4 linked regions of the Homo sapiens genome follow. The protein of the gene in region 1 purifies or fractionates together with the protein of each later gene. This does not show direct contact. Each region holds a gene or a part of one and is shown on either strand. Other genes may lie near its edges. The genes, in order: MID1IP1, ACACB, MID1 and KLHL25.

Region 1 (7,171 bases):
AGCTCAAGCAACCAAGCTGGCCGGGGCAGCGATGGGGCGTGGGCACCCACCTCCTCTTGCGCCTTGAGACTCTCCTGCTCGTTGGCAATTCAGTGTTCTCGCTGCAAGCGGCTGCTACGCAAGGGCGCTGCTGCGGTCAGTGGCTGGACTGTGACTGCGGACGGCGGTGACTGCGTTGGCCCCCTACCCATCCCAGGTGCTCAATTTATAGTCCAGGAAAGGTGTCGCCGGCGCTCAGGGCCACCCCTGGTGTCTCCTCCTCCCGCCTCCCCCGGCAGCACCGAGATAAAAGGCCCAGGCCGGGATGACCGCGAGTAACACTCGCCCGGCCCTTTCTACAGCGGGGGCGGGGCGCGCCGGGCCAGCTCCGCCTCTCGCCTGATACCCGGGCTGAGGGAGGGCGCCGGGGCAGGCCAGGGCAGGGCAGGGCAGAGCAGAGGAGGAGGGATTGGAGCAGCTGGACCCCGCCAGCACCAAGCCCTGGGCAGGCCAGATGAGGAGGGCCGGGCACAGCGAGGGTCAAAAAGGCGTCGGCGTCCGGACCGACTGGAGGGTGGGGCTGGCATGTGGGGGCTGGGCGGGCCTTGCGCGCGCTCCCCGCGTGGGATGACCAGAATGCACGTGCCTTGGTTGCAGAGTGAGCCCCTCAGCCCCGAATCTGGAGTGGCCGCGGCCGGGAAACAGGAACCCGGGTTTATTATTAGCCGTCGGGGAAGAGGGGCCGGCAGCAGGTACAACTCCATCCTGGGACTCTTACGTAATAAAGGGTGACCGGGCATGCTGGGTGCACGTGGACGCGCGGTGCTCCCGCAGTGGCCCTGGCCTTGGTCAGCTATGGGGGGAGGGGAGCGTCAGAGGCTTTTGCCTCCCTCCTGGCGGGGTGGGATCTTTCCCAATCTTTCCTTTAACAGTGGTTGCCGGGGATGAAGAGGGGCACACTATCAGATCTGCTGATTCTTTGAAGAGATCTGCAAGTGGCAATGGGGAGAAGTCCATTTTTGTCCAAGTCGGCTACACAGTGATGCTGGAGAGCCTGGGCCATGTGGCCTTTTGGCTGCCAAGAGGCCAGGAGAGGGTGACAGTAGTTAGGTCTAGTCTTGGGTGTCTTTCACCATTTAACAGAGAAATGGGGAGGTGTCTAATTATTTTTGAGGGTGCTTGTGTGAAGTGTTCCTTTCAAAAGATAGTTCTTAAAGCACTGGGTCATTTAATAGGGCCTAAGCTATGTACCGAATCGCTGGATTTAACTTTTAAGAGCCTTGCACCTTGAATTTCACTTTGAGACTTCCAAACCACAGCCTATTTAATTTTTCCCATCTCATGTCCCTTGCCATATTCCTCATCCACCAGTCCTCTCTGGCAGTCCTACAATTATGTTCAATAAGATTCAAGCTTCTCATTTTAAATCCCTTTTCTCGGCCTGAAACGGTGGCTCACGCCTGTAATCCCAGCACTTTGGGAGGCCGAGGCGGGCGGATCACAAAGTCAGGGGTTCCAGACTAGCCTGGCCAACATGGTGAAACCCGGTCTCTACTAAAAATACAAAAATTAGCCGGGCGTGGTGGCCAGCGCCTGTAATCCCAGCTACTCGGGAGGATGAAGCAGGAGAATTGCTTGAACCCAGGAGGCGGAGTTGCAGTGAGCCGAGATCGTGCCACTGCACTCCAGCCTGGGCGACAGAGCAAGACTCTGTCTCAAATAAAAAAAAAAAAGATCCCTTTTCTCTAAAACTTAACAGAGGTCTCTGTCCCTAGTACAGTTTTTTCCCACGGGACAAAAAATGCCTAAGGAAGGGAGAACATAATAAAGGGGTTTCTTTCTCTCCCTCTTTCTTTCACATTAAGACCTACACTTAAATATTTTCCATAGAAAACCATCTTCCTAATTGTCTTTTGAATGAAATTCTGACTTGGTGCCACAAGGACTAATCTGTTGACAAAAAACAAACAAAACAAAACAAAGTCAGTGACCCTTGGAGACAGACCTAAGTCTGAGGACCCACTACCCCAAAACGTATTAGCTCTACATCACAGCCCATGTTTTCTTACTTGCAAAACTGGGATAGACCTATCAGGGTTTTGAAGGAAGATCAATGGAAAGAAAAATACAGGGAGGCAGGAAGCATTATATAACTTTGAAGCATTAAAATAATTTCACCTTCCTTCTCTGCACACATAGAAACTTTTCTAGCCTCAGTTTCTTTATCAAAAAAATGGAGCTTGTTCCATGGGCCGTGCCAAGGACTTTGATTAAGTTTAAATATGATAATGTAAATAAAAATCACTATGTAAATTGTAAAGTACAAAGATTAATTGTACTTGATACAGGACCTCATCATAGTGAGAGGTGTTTATGTGAAGAGTCAGAAACCTTAAAAGTGTGGAAATTGCCTATGATGAGCCACAGATCCTTCCACCCAACCCCCAGTGCTTAAGCAGGAAAATAATATAAAATATGTCCAATGAGATTGAAAGAGCACTGCAAGAAGAAAACTCGAGAAAAACAGATATACAGTTTCTAGTAGCTGATCTTCTCATAAATTAAAGCGTACTTTGTCCCCCTTCCTGGACCCATTTGGTATTTTAAGTACGTATGCACCCGGATGAAAACTCGGTATTCAGACTTAACTTACTAAATGCCAAAATCTTGCCTCTTTTTCTCTTCTTCCCAGTTCCAACAGTGTGATAACACACGGAAAACGGAAATCCAAGGGATCTAGCAAAAGGATTCCACCCAGCAAAAACGCCAGCTTGGGAGAGGGCCCCTACCTAACTCCTTCCTTCTGGCCTCCACCCCTCCCCTGATACGTTTCCTTCCGTCTAGTCTCGAGATAACCCTTCATCCCCCAGTTTCTTGACTCTGGCCGCTGTTCTTGAACATTTCTTAAACACTTTCAGAGAAAGATGGCTCATGCACCTGCCTGCAAAACTTCCCAAACCGGGCCTCCCAGCTCCCCCAGACCCCGCAACAACTCACACCCGCCGGGGAAACTCCAGAAGGAAAAGGTCCGCCGGCCAGAGCTCTGGGCCCTTGGAATCACCCCACCACCGCCCCTCTGGCTTCAGCCAATCAGAAGCCGTCAGAAAATATTATGCAAATGAATCCTGATGCTCCAGCCAGTCAGAAGCCGCGGAGCCCTCCCCCACGCAGCGTCCTCTTTCACCCCAGCCCCGCCAAGCTGGCTGCCGCGTCCCTGGCAACCGGCGCGCAGCCAGTTCTCCACTACGCTTGGCTGTAAAAAAATTAAAATGGTTGCCTGGGGTCACATGGGAGGGGAGCGGGCTGGCCCAGGCCTAAGGAAGGTTGGAAACCTCACTGATTGCCCCAGGCACCTTCCCTGTCCCGATCTGGAACAGGCTGGAGGTGCTGAGCCACCTGCCCGGAATTCAGTTTGCCTCCAGAAAACAGAAGTCATCCGTTGAACAAATAACTTTCGAGTCCTTGTAGCACGCCAACAGCCTCAAAGCAAGAGGTCTTTGGTCTCTGCTTTCTATCCTATATGCTAAATTTCCGGTAAAAGCCTTGTCTGAGGTACCCATCCCCACTTCTTGGTTCACAGTTGCAATTCTGGAATTCTGGATCTCTTTTTTTTTGTTTTGTTTTTTTTTGAGACGGAGTCTCGCACTGTCGCCAGGCTGGAGTGCAGTGGAGCAATCTCGGCTCACTTCAACCTCTGCCTCCCGGGTTCAAGTGATTCTCCTGCCTCAGCCTCTCCAGTAGCTTGGACTACAGGCGCGCACCACCACGCCCAGCTAATTTTTATATTTTTAGTAGAGACGGGGTTTCACCATGTTGGCCAGGATGGTCTCGATCTCTTGACCTCTTGATCCGCCCGCCTCGGCCTCCCAAAGTGCTGGGATTACAGGCGTAAGCCACCAGCGCCCTGCCGGAACTCTTAAATTCTGGTTCTTAATTCCCACTCTTTTAATTAAGCAACCTGGAAAGCATGCTTTGCTGGCTCATCTCCCCAAAAATGTCCACAAATTATCCTTGTACTGTGTCCCTTGGATAGTTTTTTTTTGGGGGGGGGGAATGACATTTTAAAAGTGACCAGAAATTCCTGAACAAAGTAGTCAGCAAGAGTAAACTGGTGCAAGAAAGTCAGACTGGATAAAGAAGAGATCTGGCCTAGAACTGGAAGAAAGATGATATTTTAAGGCAAGAAGCCAGCCCAACCCAAGATAGCAGAGATCCTGGATTATTTTGAGACAGACTTAGAAGGATCCATTTCATGAAAAATGTCCTAGAAATATGACAGTCAGACTCTCGTGTTAAAGGCCATGTAGTCCAACCATCCACTTGTGCTGAAATCGCTCACAACATCCCCACCAAGTGGTCGCCCTTGCCTACATTCTTCTATTTTCCGTTCTCCAGTGTTCTTCTATCTTTTGGAGCTCTACAGAAGGCCATGAAGCACACCATCAGATGTTTGAAGGTAGATATGGTCTCCTTAAGTCTACTGTTCTTCAAGTCAGTTATCCCCAGTTCCTGTAGCCATTCTTCATGTTCTCTTTTGAGTCGCTCATCCATCCTAGTCACTAACTTTAGAAGTAGCTCTGGTTTGCTTTTGAGTGTGGCCCCTCTCATTCCAAGTACCATCTTTTCTAGGACAAAATGGAGTGGCACAGCCACTTATATTATTGTGAATGGTAATTTTTCTAGGTCATATTTATTGAGCACAAGTGCTTGGAAATTAGACTTGTTAACTCAAAAGACATGTTAACTCATTTTAACTTCACAACCACCCTGAGAAGAAAGCAAGGATCAAAGAGTTTAAGGGCCAAACTGTCAGAACTGGGATTTGACCCAGTTTTCTAATGCCAAATCCAATGTTCTTTCTACTACTCAATAGATAGCTACTGCTTATAATGCTGCCTAACATTTAATGGACTTATTTTAACAGCTACATCTATATGCTGCCATCTATATAACAAAATTTTGTGTACCCTATACTTGAGTAGTGGGGATTTTTTGGACCAAAGTACAGAACTTTATATTATCCTACTTAAACTTTATCTCATTGGATTTGGCCCATTAGTTCAGCCTGTTTTATTATTTTGGGTCCTGATTCTGTGCTGTAATGCACTTGGATCTTACCCATATATTTGATAACTATTCTATATATTTATCCAAGTTATTGATAATAGGTACCAGGCACCACTGGGCAAGAGGCAAATTGCTGTAGAACATCTGGAGAGCTCCTTCAGTTTGATATCCGTCCATTAATTGGCACTTTTTGGCATAAGTTGTTCCAGCCAGCTATGAATCATGTTAATTGTACAGTCATCCAGCCTATATTTTTCTTCTTGACCACAGGATATTATGAGAGACCTTGCTAAGTGCCTTGCTGAAGTCCCAAGCTAATAGCCAGTTTTCTTCCTGTGGAGTCAAGAAGAAGGGCATTTTTGTCATATACCACAAAGAAACCACCATCACATGATACAAAAATGCAGAAATAGCATCATAATAATCTGAGTTAAGATGGGGAAGGGAGTGTATCTTATTGTAATTGTCCTTACAGGAAAAACCGTCATGAAGGTTTAGTTGAGAGAAGGTAGACAGAAAAATGCCAAAACCTAAGAACAGTGAGTAGTGAATCTGCTGGCTTCAGATCCACTTTCAGGTTTTGGAATGTCTGAATATGTCGTAGTTAGCATTTTGTCACAATCTCATTTTTTAAAGCGTCTTTAGCCTTGCGTTTGGAAGAAGTAGAGCACAGGGAAAGTTGAGAATACTAAAGAATACCTTTTGTTATGTTCTCATCATTTCTACATCTTTAAGAACTCTGAACCGTATACAGAACTGTACATTCAATTTCAATATGGTAGATGAGAAAAGGGCAAGACACATCATAGCTTTTCTTACCACATAGAAACTTCTCAAGTTGATTTTTCCTAGATCCTTAGGATTCCAGGACTTTCTTGTACCATCAGCATAGAAGGAAGAATGAGAATGTTCTTTCTTCACTCTATCCTGTTAAAATGTGTCAGCTTGGTTAGTTTAAATTCTGAAATTAGATTCAAAGTTTACAAATTATAACACCAAATTAGGGAGAAAACACATAATTATCAATATTTCATATGTTCAAGTCCTAATTACAAATCCACATATATACATATACATATGGGTTGTAGCTTCATTTTGTTGAAGCTACAGTGTCATAAATACATTATCCAATGGACGGGTTCAACAGTTACACGCCCAAGTCTTCCATAATTTACTCTTCCAACCTTAATAATAAAAAAACTAGACCTAGACAAGGTACAATGAAGTCAAGGCGAATTCACCTACATCATATTAGACAGTCTGGACAGAGTTAGTACACAAAAGATGTAAATCTAGAAGCAAATACAACCTACAAGTCCTTCCAGCTATAGAAGACCTTGATAAGAATAGAAAAATAATAAACAATTAGGAAGATTTGAAAAAGGATATTGCAGAGCAAAAGAAACAAAATTTGAACCAAACACATCACTAGAGAGTCAATAAATGTAATTCCAAACAAGGAACAAAACAGGCATGCCAGAAAATTCAGTTACTGGCATAGGGCAAAAGGTTCAGGTAATCCCAATGAAAAGACACAAAAGAGTGAAAGAAAATGGAGAGGAAATGTTGGATAGAGAAGACAAAGACAACATAATATAGGCCAGGCGCAGTGGCTCACACCTGTAATCCCAGCACTTTGGGAGGCTGAGGTGGGTAGATCACTTGAGGTCAGGAGTTTGAGACCAGCCTGGCCAACATAGTGAAACCCCATCTCTACTAAAAATACAAAAAAATTTAGCTGGGCATGGTTGTGCATGCCTGTAATCCCAGCTACTTGGGAGGCTGAGGCAGGAGAATCACTTGAACCCAGGGGGCGGAAGTTGCAGTGAGCCGAGATCATGCCACTGCACTCCAGCCTGGGCAACAGAGTGAGACCCCGTCTCAAAACACACACACACATACACACACACACACACACACACACACACACACACACACACACAATATAAGCTTAACTGATGTTTCCAAAGAGACCTCAACATGTGAAATAGAAGAAATTCAGTTGTAACATAGAAAATTTTCCTTGACAAGATGCATTCATCTGCAGATTTAATAAGCATACTATATACCAGATAAAATTATGCAGAACAGTTGAAAAACAAGCTAGTTGTATTTTTCAACTTCA
Region 2 (7,032 bases), on another chromosome or scaffold:
TAGTTCTTCCCTACTGATGACTTCAAGTTTTTTCTCTTTCCTCTTCTCTCCCCAGGCTCTCTTTAAACTGTGGGGCTCCCCAGACAAGTATCCCAAAGACATCCTGACATACACTGAATTAGTGTTGGACTCTCAGGGCCAGCTGGTGGAGATGAACCGACTTCCTGGTGGAAATGAGGTAATAGCTCAGCGGAGCCTAACCCCTGGCTGGAGTCACCCCCTTAAAAATATTTTTGGGCCAGGTGCAGTAGCTCACACCTGTAATCCCAGTGCTTTGGGAGGCCAAGGTGGGTGGATCACTTGAGGTCAGAAGTTCAAGACCAGCCTGGGCTACATGGTGAGAACCTGTCTCTACATAAAATTTTAAAATTAGCTGTGTGTGGTGGTGTGCTCCTATAGTCCCAGCTACTCGAGAGACTGAGGCAGGAGTGATTGCTTAAGCCCAGAAAGTTGAGGCTGCAATGAGCTGTGATTGCACCACTGCACTCTGGCCTGCGCAACAGAGCAAGACCCTGTATCTAAAAAAAATAATAATAACTAAAATAAAATAAAAAGTTTTCCCCCAAAGAAACAAACTCATTTTCCTTGTGCATTCATCCCCTTGCCAGGTGGGCATGGTGGCCTTCAAAATGAGGTTTAAGACCCAGGAGTACCCGGAAGGACGGGATGTGATCGTCATCGGCAATGACATCACCTTTCGCATTGGATCCTTTGGCCCTGGAGAGGACCTTCTGTACCTGCGGGCATCCGAGATGGCCCGGGCAGAGGGCATTCCCAAAATTTACGTGGCAGCCAACAGTGGCGCCCGTATTGGCATGGCAGAGGAGATCAAACACATGTTCCACGTGGCTTGGGTGGACCCAGAAGACCCCCACAAAGTACGTCGTGAAACTGGCGGGGCAGGGTGATTCTGCTCAGCTACTACTGTATTTTCAGTGGGAGTGCTAGCACCTGCAAGAGGTGAAAAAAATCTCACTTATGTATAAAGCACAGATGTACATGTAGTGTATAAACAGGCATACAGTGTATCAGTGATACTAACATTTCACTGTGGCGGGGGGGATGGTGATGAGAAAAAAAAGATCTAAAAAGGCTCCTTAACGGGGATAATGAAAAAAGTCTATAAACCCTGAGCTGATATACACTGAGCGCTCCTGAATGCAGTGTGCACTGAGAATGCAGAGGTGATTGTGTCAACTCCCTGGCCTCATAGCGTTCTTAGAATTATGGCTCACACCTGTCATCCCAGCAACTCAGGAGGCTTGGGTGGGAGGATAGCTTGAAGCCAGGAATTCATGACCAAGCTAGGTAACCTAGGCAGCATAGCCAGACTTCGTCTCTACTAATGAAAAAACTAGGTGAGCATGATGGTGCCTGCCTGTAGTCAGCCTCAGCTACTTGGGAAGTTGAAGTGGGAGGATCACTTGGAGCCCAGGAGTTCAAGGCTGCAGTGAGCCATGATCATCATACCACTGCACTCCAGACTGGGCAACTGAGTGAGACCCCCCATCTCAAAAAAAAAGAAAAATCTTTGGGGAGTTGTATAGATACCAGCTTGCCATAAAAGGCAAGATGAATGAGGGAAGCGCACGCATTCTGTGATGTGAAATGACAGGGGACAGTCATCCTTTCCATTCAGAGCATGCATTCTCGGGGGCGATATTGCCCACTACCCCCAAGAAGACAGAAAAATAATTTTTGGGGTGGCAATAAAATAGTTTTTAACATATATACATATACAGAGTATGTAAATAGTGGTTAAACAGTGTATCTTGAAAATTAAAATTTCATGTTGGGGTGCTGGCAATAAGAAATAAAAATGAGATAGTCCTTAGAGGAGAGCTTAGCTCAAAGCAGAACTTCAGTTTATGGCTGTTATTAATACGGTATTTACATGAGATGTGTTAATGTGTCATTGACATGTTACTAACATGTTATTAACATCCATCCCTACGATGTTCACATTAAGAAAAAAAAAACAGTGGCTTTCAGTGCAGGGAACTGGATTCGTAGCCTCACTAAAGTATTTTTTAAGGGATTTAAATACCTGTACCTGACTCCCCAAGACTACACCAGAATCAGCTCCCTGAACTCCGTCCACTGTAAACACATCGAGGAAGGAGGAGAGTCCAGGTAAATAACTTATCAGGTAGCTCCTTAATTTTGCTCATGGTTAATTTCAGCTGTCTTCTTTCCTCGGGGCTTGTGGCGATATTTTCCAGTGGGGTGGTGGTGTTTGTATGATGGGAACCAATGCCTGTTGGGGGCACTGATGCCTTAAACATTTGTTAAACTCTCCAAGGTGAGTCCATCCTTGTCATTCTAAAATGAGTGACTCCTTTCACAAAAAATAGCACGTCATGTAGGGAGAATGAGATTGGATTCTCGTGAATCTCCTAGGAGCCGCAGGCTCACATTTTGTGACCAAACTGATGCAGCGGTGACTTGGCAAACTGGGAAGGTATGGGTGGGGCAGAGAGAGGTCTGTTCTTCGAGAGCATTCAAAGGCTACTATCTTTTCCAGGACAAGTTATGTTTTTCTCAGTGGGATTAACTGACTCAGGATTTCCTAGACTGGGTTTTTTGCAATGTTAGTGACAAGCTGGGGGGAAATTCCATAGTCAGATGAGTTTGGGAAACACTGGGTTAAATGAGATCTCATAAACATCTTTATTGCAGACCTTCTTAGTACCTGTAGCATGCTGTATTAGTCAGCGTTCTCCAGAGGGACAGGACTAGTAGGATATATGTATATATGAAAGGGACTTTATTAAGGAGAATTGACTCACATGATCATAAGGTGAAGTCCCATGATAGGCTGTCTGCAAGCTGAGGAGCAAGGAAGCCAGTAGTGGCTCGGTCTGAGTCTAAAAGCCTCAAAAGTAGGGAAGCCAATAGTGCAGCCTTCAGTGGCCAAAGGCCTGAGGGCCCCTGGCAAACCACTGGCGTGAGTCCAAGAGTCCAAAGGCCGAAGAACCTGGAGTCTGATGTTTGAGGGCAGGAAGCTTCCAGCATGTGAGAAAGATGAAAGCCAGAAGACTCAGCAAGGCAGCTTACTCCACCTTCTTTCACCTGCTTTTTCTAGCCGCGCTGGCAGCTGGATGACTGGATGGTGCGCACCCACATTGAGGATGGGTCTTCCTCTCCCAGTCCACTGACTCAAATGTTAATCTCCTCTAGCAACACCCTCAAAGACACACCCAGAAACAGTACTTTGCATCCTAAAGTTGACACTTAATATTAACCATCACACATGCTAAAGTGCATTGTGAATCTCTAACAGAGGCTGGCGGGACAGTGTTTCTCATTATGTGGCCCTGGAATTTTTGATTGATTGATTGTGAATGGGTTTCCTCTGTGTACCCCCATCTCTCTGTAGACCGTTGGAGGAATATGGGCCGAGGGTGATATTTCACTGAGACAGCCCCTGAACAGGCAGATATCTTTGGTTGTATAAACCAAAAAGTATCTGAGACAGGTCTCAATCAATTGAGAAGTTTATTTTGCCAAGGTTAGGGACACATCCAGAAGCAAAGAACACGGAATCATAGAAACCGTCTGTGGCGTGTACCTTTCTTCAAAGATGATTTGGAGGGCTTCAGTATTTAAAGGAGAAAAGCAGGCTGGAGGGGAAAGAGGGAAGTTCTGGTAATCACATGTTGCAGGAGAAAAGGCGCAGGCAGGGGAAGTCAGTTATGTATTCTTCCTGCGCTCAGTAAGTCAGCACTTTCTATAAGATAAGGTGGACATAGAGGAACTACCTGTGGAGATATTTCAGCTTTTATCTGTATCTATCTGCTTACTAAAGAAACAAAAGGAAAGGCAGCTTGCACAACTCAGCTTCAGCTTAAATTGTTCCTTTTGGCATTGTGAATCGTGGTCCTAGTTTTTATTTTCCTTTCACAGATGGGAGCAGTGTGATGATTTATTTATTTATTTGAGACAGAATCCCGCTCTGTCACCCAGGCTGGAGTGCAGTGGTGTAATCTTGGCTCACTGCAACCTCCACTTCCCAGGTTCAAGCGATTCTTCTGCCTCAGCTTCCCAAGTAGCTGGGATTACAGGCGTGCACCACCACGCCCAGCTAACTTTTGTATTTTTAGTAGAGATGGGGTTTCGCCATATTGGCCAGGCTGGTCTCAAACTCCTGACCTCAAGTAATCTGCCCGCCTCGTCCTCCCAAACTGCTGGGATTACAGAGCAGGGTGATGATTGTTGATGCTGCACTTGCCCTTTTAGAAATCTTAGCACTCATTTTGAGGGTTCTAGATGCCAATTTCATTTTGCCTCTGGATGCTTTGTCTGCTTCCAATCTCTCACCTTGCTGCCCAGTCAGTCCCTTCTTGGGAAATGCATCCACCTTGGATTTTTTGGGGCTAGAGCCCAGCCTTTAACCTGTGCTTGCTTTTGAAGATACATGATCACGGATATCATCGGGAAGGATGATGGCTTGGGCGTGGAGAATCTGAGGGGCTCAGGCATGATTGCTGGGGAGTCCTCTCTGGCTTACGAAGAGATCGTCACCATTAGCTTGGTGAGTCTTCTTCTATTTTCTCTTACTTTTCAACTTTCCATTATAGAAACTTTAAAATTGTCACAAAATTAGAGAGAATCAATAATAAGCCCCATGTGCCCGTCACATACCTCCTACAGTTACCACATGCCAGCCCACTGATATTTCCTCAATCTCACCCCCATCCCCTGCACCTGTTTTAGAGTATTTTAAAGCCAGCCCCCATCATGTCTTTTCATCCATAAATACGTAAGGGTAGATCTTTAACAGATAATGACTCTCACCCTCTTCCCCCGGTTTTTAAAAACATAACTGAAATACTAATATTACACCCAACAGAATCAGCAATATCATTGAAACCCAGTGTGGTTTAACAGTTATCTCAAAATACCCTTTTCTAGTGGTTTGTTTGAATCAGGGTCCAATCTCATCTTATTTTCAAGGTACTGAATGTTTAGAAGAACTTTTCTCTGACTTTAACTGGCATATAAGGAGTAGTCCCCATCCCATCCCCATGGCCTTTCCAAAAATGTTTTCTGTTTCTAGTAGTAGTACTACTGTAGTAGTAGTAGTAGTACTAGTAGTAATTCTAGTACTAGCAGTGGTGGTAGTAGTGGTGGTGGTAGTAGTAGTAGTGGTAGTAGTGTTTGTGGTGGTGAATCTGTATGGGTCTAAGGCAGAGTGAGAGACCGAGGCAAGTCTCTCAGCAGGAGTGAAAGTTTATTAAAAAGTTTTAAAGCAAGAATGAAATGAAGTACACTTGGAAGAGGGCCAAACAAGGCAACCTGAGAGATCCAAGTGCCTCATCCAACCCTTTTGAGGTTTTATGCATTGGCATGATTCCAGGGTTTGTGTTTCTTCTCCCCTGATTCTTCCCTTGGGGTGGGCTGTCTGCATGCACGTGGTCTGCCAGCACTTAGGAGGGGCCGCATGAACAGTGTGTTTACTGAAGTTGTGTGCATGCTCACTTGAGGCTTTCCTCCTTTACCAGTCGAGTGTTCCTAGAAGAAGGGCACGGTACCAGATAAACTCTGCCATCTTACCTCTTAGCATGCATGCTTGAGCCCACCCACCCAGCTCCTGAGATCTTATGGGGAAGCTGCTTATCACTAGCTTCAGGTGTTTTCTATCTATCAGGAGATTGCCTTTCCCTGGAGCCAGCTGTGACCAATATTAATTTTAGAGAGACACTTTAGCAACTGCCTAACTATCACCTGATGGTTGCCTTCCTCTCCTGCCCTGCTCATGTCTGCTTAACTACCTACTCTAACAGCAGCAGCAGCAGGAATAATAGTACTCTTTAATGATAAACTGCCTTGGAAGGCCTTATTTGTACATGCAATGTTGAATCTTCAGTTTCCAAGTGGAAAATGTTGGTCATAAGCATCTTCCTTGGGCTTGTTTTCTAGATTATATGTATAGTCTTTTTATTTTGAAGTCATCTAGGACCCACCGTAAGTTATAAGATACTACAGAGAATTTCCAAGTACCCTTCACCCAGCTTCCCCTATGGTACTTACATAACCGTAGTACATTATCGAAACCAGGAAACTGACATTGGCACAATATTGTTAACTCAGTACAGACCTTATTTTGAATTTCACCAGTTTTTACATGCACTCCTAGGTGTCCTTTTGGTTGTTAAGAGGCTGCAATGGCCCATGAATGCCCAGGCTCAGAAGAGCTGCACACAAGCCTCTTAAAATCTGAAACATTCACTGTCTGCTGCTTGTCTTTACAGCAATCTTTGTTAACCATGTTATTTCCAGATAGGAATCCAAGCTCAATAAAGTGGCCTGAAGAATAGGCTTTTGCCTCTACTGTGGTTTGGCTCCAAATCGGGTTGCCATTGGTCAAAACATAACTTCCATTTGGTCCCAGCAGGTTCCTGGACTCTTCCCTGCTGTGGGGGGTGGGTCCCTCGCCACTCTCCAGAATTCAGAGGGGGTCCTCTCTCCACAGGTGACCTGCCGAGCCATTGGGATTGGGGCCTACTTGGTGAGGCTGGGCCAGCGAGTGATCCAGGTGGAGAATTCCCACATCATCCTCACAGGAGCAAGTGCTCTCAACAAGGTGACCAAAAAGGGGCCTGTGCAGAGTGGATCCTTGGGGGCCAGGAGTCATTTTAACATTCCCATTGGTCTCTGGTGGGGGATTTTTCTCAATATGAAGCCAGTTTCATTCCTACTGATACAAGAGCTCTTTTTTTCCAATTTGCAGCTATCTGGGTCCTTATGAGAAAAAAAAAATTAGTTTTAGGCAATTCTGGTCGATCTAACTCCCTGTATTACTGACATTTTAAAACAAATTATTGAAGTGCCATTACACATTGCAGAAAATTAGAAAAGGAACCCCCCAAAAAAGTAATTTTGCAGCTTCTATCATTCTGGTATAGTTCCCTCTCATCTTCTGTCTTTATGTGGTTAATTTATAGTGAATATGCAGTTTTGTATTCTACTTTTTTCACTGTATTAAAACATTTTCCTTGTTGAAAAGTCTCTATACTTAATGTCTGCTCA
Region 3 (4,562 bases), about 28 Mb from region 1:
AGCCTGCCCCCCACCTCCGGCGCGTGGGCATCCTGCTGGACTATGATAACGGCTCTATCGCCTTTTATGATGCTTTGAACTCCATCCACCTCTACACCTTCGACGTCGCATTTGCGCAGCCTGTTTGCCCCACCTTCACCGTGTGGAACAAGTGTCTGACGATTATCACTGGGCTCCCTATCCCAGACCATTTGGACTGCACAGAGCAGCTGCCGTGAGCGTCTGGCCACATGGAGCTGCTTTCTGGGGAACAGTAAGGTTCAGGCCACTATTTAGGGGACTGAGAAAGCACAGGCTTCATGAGTGTAATGAAATCTCACCAGAAGTGTCCCGAAATCGGCTCAGATAGGGCTCAAAACAAGAGATTCCTCTCCTTTTACTGTGTCTTGTATTAAGTACGGGCTTTAATAATTTCTTTAATTTTTTTGTATTTAGAGGAAAATCTATAGATTATTTATAAGAGAAACATAATCAGGATTACAACTTTTAGGAATTACTTGGTTTTGCACATTAAGAGGCCCATAAGTTTATCAGCTATTTACAACCTTCATTTCATCACAATCTGTGGGCTTACAAAAAAACAAAAACTTTTGTAGTTTTGTATGTTACTCATCTTCTTACCTGATATCCCATGATGATCCCATGGTAGGTCTTCTCACCTCGATGGTGCATAACAGGATGTGTTTGAACCTAGTAGGGGAGGAAACAGGCTTTCTTACTCTGGTTTAATTTGAAGTGTTTTAATTGTGATGTCAAAAAGTTGTATCAGATCAACTAAAATGGAGAGCAAGACAGAGAATGAAAAGAGTTGATTTTGGACCTCGGACCTTGCCGTGGCTAAATCTTTACCTTCTCATAGCTGATGGGATAATGTTGGAAAGAAAGGTTCTGAATCCTTTGGCCACATTTTGCCCTGCTTCTCTCAGGGTTAAGGGTTCTGGAAGAACATTAAGAATGAGATTGCAATTGAAAATAGTCATTTTGAATCCTATTGATTATTCAAAAATTCAGGCTGATTTGTCTTTTATCAGAGGTAGGATTCTGTTTTATAGTATAGAATCTACTTTATCCTTCCTTTTAATAGTTCCTTTAGACCTGTGAAATTTCTTCACTACATTTAATAGTTCTCCTATTTCCCGCTCCCCCATATCAATTTTCCTTTTGTCTCCGGGGCTGAGTAAATAAACATGTTCTGTCACAAATAGCAGCACCACTTTGGATTGATTTTGCTCTCCAGGACATCAGCACATGGCCCTGATCAGCACTACCACATCCAAACATAAGTCACTGAAAAACACTTAATATTTATGAGTTGGTAATGACAAGGGACATTGTATAAAGTACTATTTGCTAGATTCATGCCTCAAAAGTTATTATAAACAGACCTTTATTAAACACATCTTGAAAGATGTAGAAGTCCCTCTATAGTCTAGTATAGTTTACAATAGAGTTGTAAGACCAAAAAAAAAAAAAAAAAATTCAAACTCGTTATTCAGGAACCTGCTTATAAAATGTCAGCTGGGATTCTTTGCATGCCAATCTGATGCGTTGGAATGGTCCATGAATTAAGGCTTTCTTGAGCAGTTCTTGGCCCAGAACTCTGGCATTGGTTCTAGTTTGATGAAGGGCATGACCTCTATAAATGGTTTCAATTGCTAAAATATTTACCTGGGATACTGGGTCAGCCATTTTGACTGAGCAGACTAGTGGATTTAGACATTGTTTTTAGTTATTTTGTTTTTAACCAAATCAACCAACTGCCTCCCTGAAATAAGTCAATGAACTCATTGTTTCAGCATCACGTGGCCAAAGGTCATGTGATTGCAAATCTGGATTTCAAGGGAGGCCAAGCCAGCTTCCTGGGTCCTTCCATCCTCTTCCCTAGCAGACACTCTCCTTTTTCTTAACAGATAGATTCTATATATTTACTATATTATTTATACCCAGATGAATATTTTGATAGATACCTAAGACAATTTCACATCTAAAAGATGGACGCCTCAATGGAAAAAAAACAATCTTTCTCTGGAAACCTTATAGGTTTTTCTTTTTATTACAATATAAAAGCAATGTGTGTTTGCCTTCTCTGAGTAAACTGAAAGGGTTGTCTCAGTAATTTTTACATACATTTTGGGTAACTGGATAATGGATATTTTAATGCACTTTGTACACTAACAGGTTCTAAATAAAAGGGTCTAAAACTCAGCTTCTGAGTTTTTAAAATCACGGTCTCCAGGTACCAATAAATGCTACAGTTTGCCTTATGATGTTAACATAAAACACTTAGTAGAAGGACAATATTTCCATGAAAATAATGTTTTTCAATATTAAGAAGTTACTACTCAAATTTTCACAGTAAGCCATTTAGGGTATGTTTGGCTATTTTTATAAGGACATGAGAGATTATGTCATAATTTTGTTGTGGAAGTCTCACTCTTGGCTAACTTAAAAGCATTGTGGATAGTAGCAGTTACTAGTTCCAGGTTGTCATATTTACAGGAAAATATGTATATGGTGAAAGGCCACCGTGTTTAATTACTATAATGATGTAGAAAAGATTCCCGTGTGAATTTTTTTTTTGAAAGTCTAAAAAATGTATGCTGTAAAAATTTGCTGCAGTGTAATTTTGCATTCTCTTTAAACTGATTGAGGTCACAGTATTTTATTATTTGGGGTCCTCACCACAGGAAACACTGCGATACAGGGGCAAAAGAGATGGCAGTGCCAATTAAATTAATACAACAAAATCAATGCAGCACCAACCAAGACTGCCAGGTCTGGTGTCATGGGTATGCCCAGAGCCCAGGAGTTCAGAAGGGCCCTAAGCCTGATTTAATGCTCTGCTGTTGATGTCTTGAAATTCTTAACAATTTTTGAACAAGGGGCCTGCGTTTTCACTTCGCACTGGGCCTTGCAAATTACATAGCGAGTGCTCATAAAAGAACTCAGAAACGTGGTACCTCTCTTCCTGGTGGATACAAATAAAGAAATCTGGATCCAAAGTTGAAAGTTGCTGGCGATATCATTCAAGTAGGACTCTAAATAGTGGATTAAGATGAGGGTGGGCCTGGGTGAAGATTCTTTCCAGCTTTAAAAGAAAGTGACTTCAAAAACTGACTGCAAATATTGACGATGGTTTCTGCTGGAGGAAAAGAAACAGCTTGAATACAGACAGGCTTTTTTATTACGGTACTGATATATTGACCTTAAACTTGCTGAGGAACTGAACTAACGTCCTCCAGTGACCGTGGAATTCCATCTCAGCTCCAGGAACATGCAGATACCTGCAAAGAGACACGCATATATGCTGGCATACATGTGCATTTGGTGTTGGGAAGTTGACCATCTGGTCTATCTTAATAAAATGGTAAAAAGCACACCAAGACAATGATGGGGGCAGGAGGATGTTTTTGAAAACAGCGCTTCTCAACCAGTGCTCGATTTTGCCCCCCAGGAGACATTTGGCAATGCAATGGCAACTTTTGGTTGTCGCAGCCGGGGAAGGGAAGCTACCAGCATCTAGTGCGTAGAGGTCATGGACGCCGTTAAACATCCTACAGTGCAAGCGCAGCCCCCGACCACGAAGAGTTGTCTTGCTCAAATATCAACAGTGCTGCAGTGTAGAAACTTGATCGTTGGTTTTCTTTTAATGCAAAACTCTCATAAAAACCTTTCACTTTTCCTGTCATTGATTATATGCTTGATACACCCAAAAAGAAAAGGGGAGGGGCACCAATTCACCTACACTCCAGTGGCTCCATCACCTTTAAAAATATTTATAAAATAGTTCCAAAAATCTGATATCTGAAAAGCAATCCAAGCCTGTGTAAATGGGAATCACTGATAAGTATCATCATCTGTATCAGCTTGGCTTGGACATGAAAAATTGATTCTCTTTATGTCACTCCTTGCACCTGGACAAATTCAATCCCCGGTACTTAAGTCACACTGCCAAGCCCTCGGCCCTGACTATTGTCTTGATTGCTGTTCCTTTCTGGTTCAAAATAAAATCATTTTTGTGGCACCAAGACCCTCTGTCTCTGCCTGTCTCTGTTGCCTTTTCATCATTTTGTGTTTTTGCAGTTATGATGTTGACAAATATTTATTCAACATCTACCATTTATTCATACTACTTTATGACATATAATTCATTTTCTTTTACTGTCTCTCATCCACTATTTGCCTTTCCCTATTCAAAATACAATTCTTTTGCAACACTCAAAATATTCTCCAGGGAATTTTTAAAACACAATAAAAGAAAGCCTATATAGAAGTGGAAACCCAGAACAAGGTTTGCTTGATTTCAAGTCTTATAGATGGGGTGAGGAAGAGAAGAGCAATGATTATTTGAACAGAGCACTGGGAGTCTTTACAGTGTGATCTAGGAGAATCCTAGCAGTTGGTCCATACATATATCCTCAACCCCATCCCATGGACCTGACTTTCTCTCACTAGAGATGCAAGCCTTTGGTCTTGGTCAGTGCTATGCAAAGTGTGGTCCAGGAATCTGCAGCATCTGCATCACCTGCGAGCTTGTTAGAACTGTCAGTTCTCCTGCCTCC
Region 4 (7,260 bases), on another chromosome or scaffold:
TCCACTGCTCCTGGGTTAAAAGGACTTAACAGGGAGCCCTTCCTATCCCCAAACCCCTTCGCTTCCCCACCTAATCCCACAGCACCCCTTCCCCAGTTTCTAACAGCCCCAGAAGGACCTGGAGGCAGTATGGGATGATTATGCCTTGAAGATGACAGGTGTCAGCTTTTGACAGCTTTAGGTTGGTATGGCAATGAGGTGGTCAAGGAAAGGGGTTGGAACCTACTGTAGGGGCTGGGCTGACTTCCATCAGCTGGGGATAGCTGCTGATTGATAAGTCCTGTTGGGATGCTGTGACTGAAAGCTGTGGATGCTTAAGTTCTCCCTCCTCCCTCCTCCCCTGCACCTCCCTCCTCTACCCCCAGCTTGTTCCAACTAAGTGTTTCCTGGTGAGGAAAATGCTTCAACAGCCTTGGCTGGCTGAGGCAATTAAATTATGAAATTTACCACATTAGATGAAAACCAGCATCTCAATCAACCAATTCATTTGTGTCTGGCCACTCTGTTTTCTTGTGCCAGCTCTGCCCACACTGGCCAGGCTATGCCTACACTGCCTGGTGGTACAGAGGGACTAGGGGCTCAGACAATGGGCTGGTCTTTGGGACCAGGGGGTAGGTTCTCCCAGGACCCCCAGAGAAGAGAGGCTGCATCCAGAAGCCATCCAGCTTCCTACAAATGCGCTGGACTGCTGACTGTGCGGCCAGACACTACGGACGAGAGCAAACCTTCTACCACCTCCCACTTGCATTCTCCATGGCCTCAACCTGTGCCTATCTTGAGGCTGGCAATGAATTGGGCCTCTGGGAGAAGTGTGGGTGAGCGACAGGACAAAGGTGGCTGCCCTACACCTCGAATCTGGGCGATGACATGCCTTTCTCATCTTAGTCAAGGCATCCTCTCCCCAGGAAGCCTTGCCCACCTGTGTCTCCTTCTCTCCTCTTGCTGCCTCTATCACTACGATGTGTCAGGGCCCCTAATCCATGTGCCAGCACTCCCTCATCTAGGTGCTCACTAAAGGAAGAGTCTCCAGCACCTAACTCAGGGCCTGGCACACAGCAGGTGCCCAATCAAGTCTGTTCAAACAATGAATCAATCAATCAATCAGTCACAAACCACCCACTAAATAACACTCTCACTCATCCTACCCTTCCCCCCGCCCCCGCCCAAGTGATAGACGGGACGAACCAAGCTTGCTTTCACTGGGTAATTGTTCTCTTTTCTTCCTGCTCTCTTCTGCCCACACGGGGTGCCCGCAGATTTAAAACGCTATTAAGGGGCATCGGGCTGCAGAACCTGCTTCCGATGTGGAGCATGCAATTTGCCTATAGCTCTTCTCTCCGCACCACATACATAAATCCAACTGCAGCCCAAGACCCCAGGATGAAGGTGTCTTCCATTTCTACCTCCCTTTTATCAACCACCCTGGAGTCACTGCCTGACAAATGACTCAAAACTGAAATAGCTGCCAGGCCGGAAAAAGACTGACTACGTCAACCTTCACAGGCACAGCTTGTGGACCCAAGAGCCTCCGGTCTTGGGACACCAAATGGACCCTGAGGTGGGGTAGACTTTGTGTCCTACTCTTCCCCAGACCCCCACGCAAGCCTTCACCAACATGCCAGGAATCCTCACAGCTCAGATCAGCACACTGAGCATCAGTTCCTCCTATGAATGGGGAGACTGGGACCCAGGGTCCCAGAGGGCTTGGCCCCATAACGGTCACTGGAATCTGGTCCAGGATACAGACCGTGGAATCCTGCCTCCTCTCCTGGTGCTACTGCTAACTTCCTTCCCTTCCTCTCTCTATTGGGCCGATAGAGTGGAACCAAATGGTCCAGACACCTGGCATTCTCTGCCCTGACTACCGAGGAGAGTCAAAGTCCAGCCCGCCTTCCCCAAGGTCAAATTCACCGGGATCCAGCAGGACCCAAGAGCGTCCAGATTAAATCTGCAGGGGCCTGGGTCCGCCCCCTCACCCACAGTTCGTTGGGTCAGGCCTCTAGAGAGATGTTTCTTTGTTCAAAGACAATGGGAATGCACTTTGGGGGCTTAGAGCAGCAACACAAAAAAAGTATCTGGTATCTCCCGGGCACAATCCCCCAAGAGAAAAGCTTCTAAAGCAACTACGAAAGAGACAGGGGGAGTGGGGGCGTAACATCGCGCGGTGTGTCTCGGAGCCAGGGCAAGTGTGGTAATTAGAGTCAGGCTAGAGGGCTTGCTCTGGACCTGCCAGTCTGGCCGCCACCCAGGTGGACAGGTGGGTGTGCCTTTGAGTGCGACCTTTCTCTGCCGCTGGACAGTTCTGCAAACCGAAACGAGGGACCCTGGCAGGCGGAACGTGAACGGCTCGGGGCTCCGCGGCCAGGCCCGCGCAAACCCTCCCCTTGTGAACCCCGGGCCCTCGCTCTGCGCCAGGCAGGCAGCCATCCGGCCTGGGCGTCCAAGGCGCGGGGCATCGCCGCTCGCGTCCTCAAAGACAAGCAGTCTCTCTTTCCAGGATCAATAGTAATTTTTTAAAAAAAAGAGTCTGCGGACTCAATGAATCAACCACTCCCTGGGGAAAGAGTAGCGGCTCCCGCGCGCAACATCCATTTGCCAAACAATTCATTCCCTCGCGCAGAGCTCTCGGCGAATTCCCTCGCGGAGCCGCGGGGTGCCGGCCGGCCGCCGCTCCCCACCATTGTCCCAGGGCCCCGGCCCCAGCCGCGGGGCCCCCTCCCGGGACACGTAGTCCCGCGGGGGCTCCGAGCGCTTGGTCCCGGCCCGGCCCGGGGTGGTGAGTCCCCAGCGCAGGGAGCGGGGGCGCGGGTGCTGCGGCCAGAGCACGGCGTCCCCGCCCGGCCTGGATACTCACTGCCGGAGACGATCCCCGCCGCCGCCGCCGCCTCAGAGACCACTCCCGGCAGCCCGCGCGAGCTCAACAGGCTCCGCCGCGGCTCCCGTCGGCCGGCTCTCCACAGGCAAAAACGCTCTCGCTGCGATACAGCCTAGGCGCCGCCAACAAACTAGTTTCTCCGGCCTTCCCGCCCCGCCTCCCGGCCCGAAGAGCAGCAGCCAATCAGAGGCATCGCCTCTGTGACGGATGGGCAGCCGAACCCTTCAGTGCAGCCGCAGAAAAGAAGGGGGTGGGCCCCAGGCCGCGCCGGCACCGGGGGGTGGGGGGCCGGGGGCGGGGAGGGGGGGGGACCGGGGGCGGGGCGGGGCGAGGAAAAGGACTTCGACCAGATTCTTAAAGAGACAGGCGCCTGCCCAACCCCGCCGCCCAAGTTTGGGAACAAAACGCGACGGTGTTCTAGAGCTTTCCAGAGGGAGCACTGTAGATTGCATATGCCTCTTTTGTGTTCGGGTCACAAGTGTTGTAGATCTCTTTAGACTCTTCAGAGCCACACTAGTAGTTGCCCGAGTGTTAATGAAACCCTGTCTTTCACTCTGGGCTTGTTTGAATGTTTGGGACTTTCTGCAGCCTCCAAACCCCACCTGTACTTGAAATCTGTATTTTTTGGAGTATTTCAGCTCTCCTCTCTGTGTCATTTCTCACTAAACTCCTTTCGTAAGCCAGCCTTTAAATGTTCGTTCATTCATTCATTCATCCATCCATCCAATAATTTCTTCCAGGAACGTTTCCTGGACGCCCACACCATGCACTCATCTTGGAGGGGGAGAACGGTTTGTGATTCTTCGTCCTTTTCCCTCCTGACTACTACTTCAGCTTACTGTGTGTGTCCAATCTCATCCGTAAAGCGGCAGATAAAAACTCCTCATCGGATTATTTGGGGGATTAAAGGAGACAAATTCCCAGACAAATGAGTGCGCAATAAATGTCCTCTCTTTTCTCCCTCCCAATGAAAATCGATAATTCAAGTAGGTTGCTTAAGGATACAAAAGGTAAAGCATAGAAAGTGATAAGAACGAAAGAGCCAAGCCTGGGGCGGGGAAATTCCCAGGAAGCAGAGGTCACCCTGACGGAGGTGGAGGTGGGAGGTGCAAGGAAGGTCTAAGAAAGTGTACAAAGATTTGGGAGAGGGGATAGGATTGTGACTAGTGGAACCTGGGAAATAGAGCCCCTGGGTAGAAAGCTGCTTAGACAGGACAGATATGCCAGGGTTAAAAGACTGGGAGATGATGAGAAGATACCACCAGGGAAGGCATTTTTGGGAAACAGCTTGATGTTCTGGGTTTGAAGCCCCGCCCTGCCCCTCAAGAGCTGGGTAGGACTGAAGCAGATGGCTCAGACTCTCTGGTGTCTGGTTCTTACTGGTGAAGAGGATTCTAAAACCTTTCTTGCAGGGGTATGGGAAAGATTAAGATAACATATGGAATAGGCCTGGCATGTAGTAAGTGCTCAGTACAGATTTGTGCTTCCATTTGGCCCAGATCTGCAGACATCTAAGGCACCAGGGTTCTGATATTTATGAACAATATTGGCCAGAGGTAAGAAGCTTGCCAAGTGCACTGTTAAGGTGCCTTCTGAAGAGAAAAGGTAGTGAGAGGTGAAGCCAGCTGGACTTTCTGGGTCCAGTGGGGACTTGGAGAACTTTTCTGTCTTACAAGAGGATTGTAAAATGCACCAATCAGCGCTCTGTATCTAGCTAGAGGTTTGTAAAATGTACCAATTAGTGCTCTGTAGAAATGCACCAATCAGCACTCTGTGGCTAGCTAGAGGTTTGTAAAACGGACCAATCAGCACTCTGTAAAATGGACCAATCAGCAGCACATGGGCCTGGACAAATAAGCTAATAAAAGCTGGCCGCCCCCCAGCCAGGAGCAGCAACCCACTTGGGTCCCCTTTGGCGCTGTGGGGGCTTTGTTCTTTCGCTCTCCACGGTAAATTTTTCTGCTGCTCACTCTTTGGGTTCACGCCACCTCTAAGAGCTGTAACACTCACCGTGAAGGTCCGCAGCTTCATTCCTGAAGTCAGCGAGACCACCAACCCACCGGAAGGAACCAGCTCCAACACATTAGCATCAAAGTAATTACTTCATTAAGGAAATGACAGAGATCACATTTGTAGTTTTATCCTGCCGATTTTCTAGCACTAGAGTGTTTATAGAATTGTTGGTTGAATGAAGCTCCACATGCAAAATTGATTCTTGGCAAGTTTATAACTGTTGCTTATTATTTTATGCAGGTTCGCTGTAAAATTATAAGTGCCAACCGCCCAGTAAAATCTGGTCCACATTATAATTTTTTCTCTCTTCAACTCCAAGGCTTAAATTAGGTACTAGAATATATTAAAATCAAATACAGTGTAAGCAATGGGACAAAATCAGACTAAGAACACGTGTGGAGTTAATCGAATTTAGGTACGATTTGAAAGAAGATGAGAGGAAGAGCGGAAGTTTGCCTTGCCATCTATTGCGGACCCTGGAGCATTACCGTCAACGCAGCCCTTACCAGCCAGTGTTGTAATGGCCTGCTTAGCTAGTCCACCTGCTGTGCAGGGAGCTCTGGGAGGGCAGGGACCATGAATTCATCTCAGAACTCTTAGGGCTGCATCAAAGTTGTCTACACAGTTTTGAAATACTGTGAATAAATCTCATATCCGTTAGAATTAGTTTTTACTGCATATGACAGAAAACCCAAAATTAACTGTGACTGAAACAAGATAGAAGTTTCTTGCTTATGCAAAATAAAGCTAAAGTTAAGCTATCCTTTGTTGGCAACTCCACAGTTGTCAGAAACACGGGCTACTGTATTTTTATTCCTTCATCTGTAATGCTTGGTTCCCATTTGCAAGGTTGCCCCATAGTCCAAGATGGCTGCTAGGGCTCCAACTCTGACACCTATATCCCAGACAGTAGGAAGGAATAATGGCGGAAGAGCATGAGATGTGTGTCTTCCAGCCTGGTTAGCTCTATTTATGCAGACTGCAGAAGTCCCACACAACACTTTTGTTTATGGACAGAATTTAGTTTTCCTACCTGCAAGAGCAGCTGGGAAATGTAGACTTTTATGTTAGTACATCACCTCCTCAAAGTCAGGGTTCTGTTAACAAGGAAGAGGGAATAGATGCCTGTTGTCCACCAACAATCCTTACCAATACCTTCCTCCCAGCATTGCCATCTAGCTAGTATTCCTGGTGGCCCAGAATCTGAAGTCTCAGAAATTCTGGGATGATGTATAGAATTCAATATATGTTCGTTAATAGATGATCAAATTCTTGGTTCTTTTTTTTTTTTAAAGATGGGGTTTCACTCTTGTTGCCCGGGCTGGAGTGCAATGGCGCAATCTCAGCTCACCACAACCTCTGCCTCCCGAGTTCAAGCGATTCTCCTGCCTCAGCCTCCCGAGTAGCTGCGATCACCAGGCATGCACCATCACGCCTGGCTAATTCTGTATTTTTAGTAGAGACGGGGTTTCTCCATGTTGGTCAGGCTGGTCTCAAACTCCCGACTTCAGGTGATCTGCCCACCTTGGCCTCCCAAAGTGCTGGGATTGCAGGCGTGAGCCACCGCGCCTGGCCTCTTGGTTTCCTTTCTACCTTCTCAGGTGTTCTTTTTAGTCTCCTCTGCTGATTCCCCCTCACTTCTCAGACCTACAAATATTGGAGCGCCCGGGAAGCGAGCGTAGGGAGCATAGGGAGATAAGAAGACCTATTCCCTTCCCTACCTACACCTTCTAAGTGATTTCATCCAAGCCCATGCCTTACGTTCATATAAGCACTGGCAACTGCCAACTCTGTGCTCCCACCCCGCCTTCTCCATAAGCTCCAAGCCCATGGGTGCAGCTGCTTACTGGGTATCTCCATGTGCATGTCTAGGGCACCTTACCCTCAAACTGTCTCCGCTGAGCTCCTATGGCTGCTCTCCCTGTGGGCTTCCCCATCTCAGGAAAGGACAACGCAGTCTTTCCTTTTGTAAGATAAAACTTGGCATCATTCTCTCCTACCCCATGTCCAATCCATCAGGAAATCCCTGTTGAGTCTGAGTACTTACTACTTCCACTGCCACCCCCAGGCTGGTCTAGAGACACTGTCATTTTCTCTCCTCTGTGACATTATGGCAGCCTCCAGGCCATCTCCCTCTTCCACACTGCTCCCATAGAATCTGTTCTCAACACAGCAGCCAGAGGGATCTTTTTATAAGATAATTTCGTTATGTCTGTCTACCCCTCGAAATCCACCAGTAGCTCCCACCTCACTCAGAGTGAAGGCCAGAGTCCTACCATCGGCCCACAAGCCTGCCCTGGTCTGGCCTGGGCCACTCTCACACCTCAACTCCCACCTCCCTGTTCCTGACCCTGACATGCTCTGCTCCAGAC

The links.
Region 2: the proteins of MID1IP1 (region 1) and ACACB purify together in Homo sapiens (co-immunoprecipitation; 2 studies listed by BioGRID and IntAct, with this or other methods). This does not show direct contact.
Region 3: the proteins of MID1IP1 (region 1) and MID1 purify together in Homo sapiens (affinity purification with western blotting; 2 studies listed by BioGRID and IntAct, with this or other methods). This does not show direct contact.
Region 4: the proteins of MID1IP1 (region 1) and KLHL25 purify together in Homo sapiens (co-immunoprecipitation; 2 studies listed by BioGRID and IntAct, with this or other methods). This does not show direct contact.

What each region holds. Positions count from the first base shown.
Region 1 is NC_000023.11:38,797,293-38,804,463, reverse strand, and holds the start of MID1IP1 (mid1-interacting protein 1), read right to left. Parts: upstream 3,006-7,171; 5' UTR 2,977-3,005; exon of another isoform or gene 2,672-2,976; intron 1,930-2,671; 5' UTR 51-1,929; intron 1-50. UniProt on the Homo sapiens protein: Plays a role in the regulation of lipogenesis in liver. Up-regulates ACACA enzyme activity. Required for efficient lipid biosynthesis, including triacylglycerol, diacylglycerol and phospholipid. Involved in stabilization of microtubules.
Region 2 is NC_000012.12:109,245,571-109,252,602, forward strand, and holds part of ACACB (acetyl-CoA carboxylase 2), read left to right. Parts: intron 1-55; coding exon 56-178; intron 179-608; coding exon 609-878; intron 879-2,035; coding exon 2,036-2,133; intron 2,134-4,413; coding exon 4,414-4,534; intron 4,535-6,475; coding exon 6,476-6,586; coding exon of another isoform or gene 6,587-6,751; exon of another isoform or gene 6,752-7,008; intron 7,009-7,032. UniProt on the Homo sapiens protein: Mitochondrial enzyme that catalyzes the carboxylation of acetyl-CoA to malonyl-CoA and plays a central role in fatty acid metabolism.
Region 3 is NC_000023.11:10,445,024-10,449,585, reverse strand, and holds the end of MID1 (E3 ubiquitin-protein ligase Midline-1), read left to right. Parts: coding exon 1-218; 3' UTR 219-4,030; downstream 4,031-4,562. UniProt on the Homo sapiens protein: Has E3 ubiquitin ligase activity towards IGBP1, promoting its monoubiquitination, which results in deprotection of the catalytic subunit of protein phosphatase PP2A, and its subsequent degradation by polyubiquitination.
Region 4 is NC_000015.10:85,791,912-85,799,171, forward strand, and holds the start of KLHL25 (kelch-like protein 25), read right to left. Parts: upstream 3,015-7,260; 5' UTR 2,855-3,014; intron 2,773-2,854; exon of another isoform or gene 1-2,772. UniProt on the Homo sapiens protein: Substrate-specific adapter of a BCR (BTB-CUL3-RBX1) E3 ubiquitin ligase complex involved in various processes, such as translation homeostasis and lipid synthesis.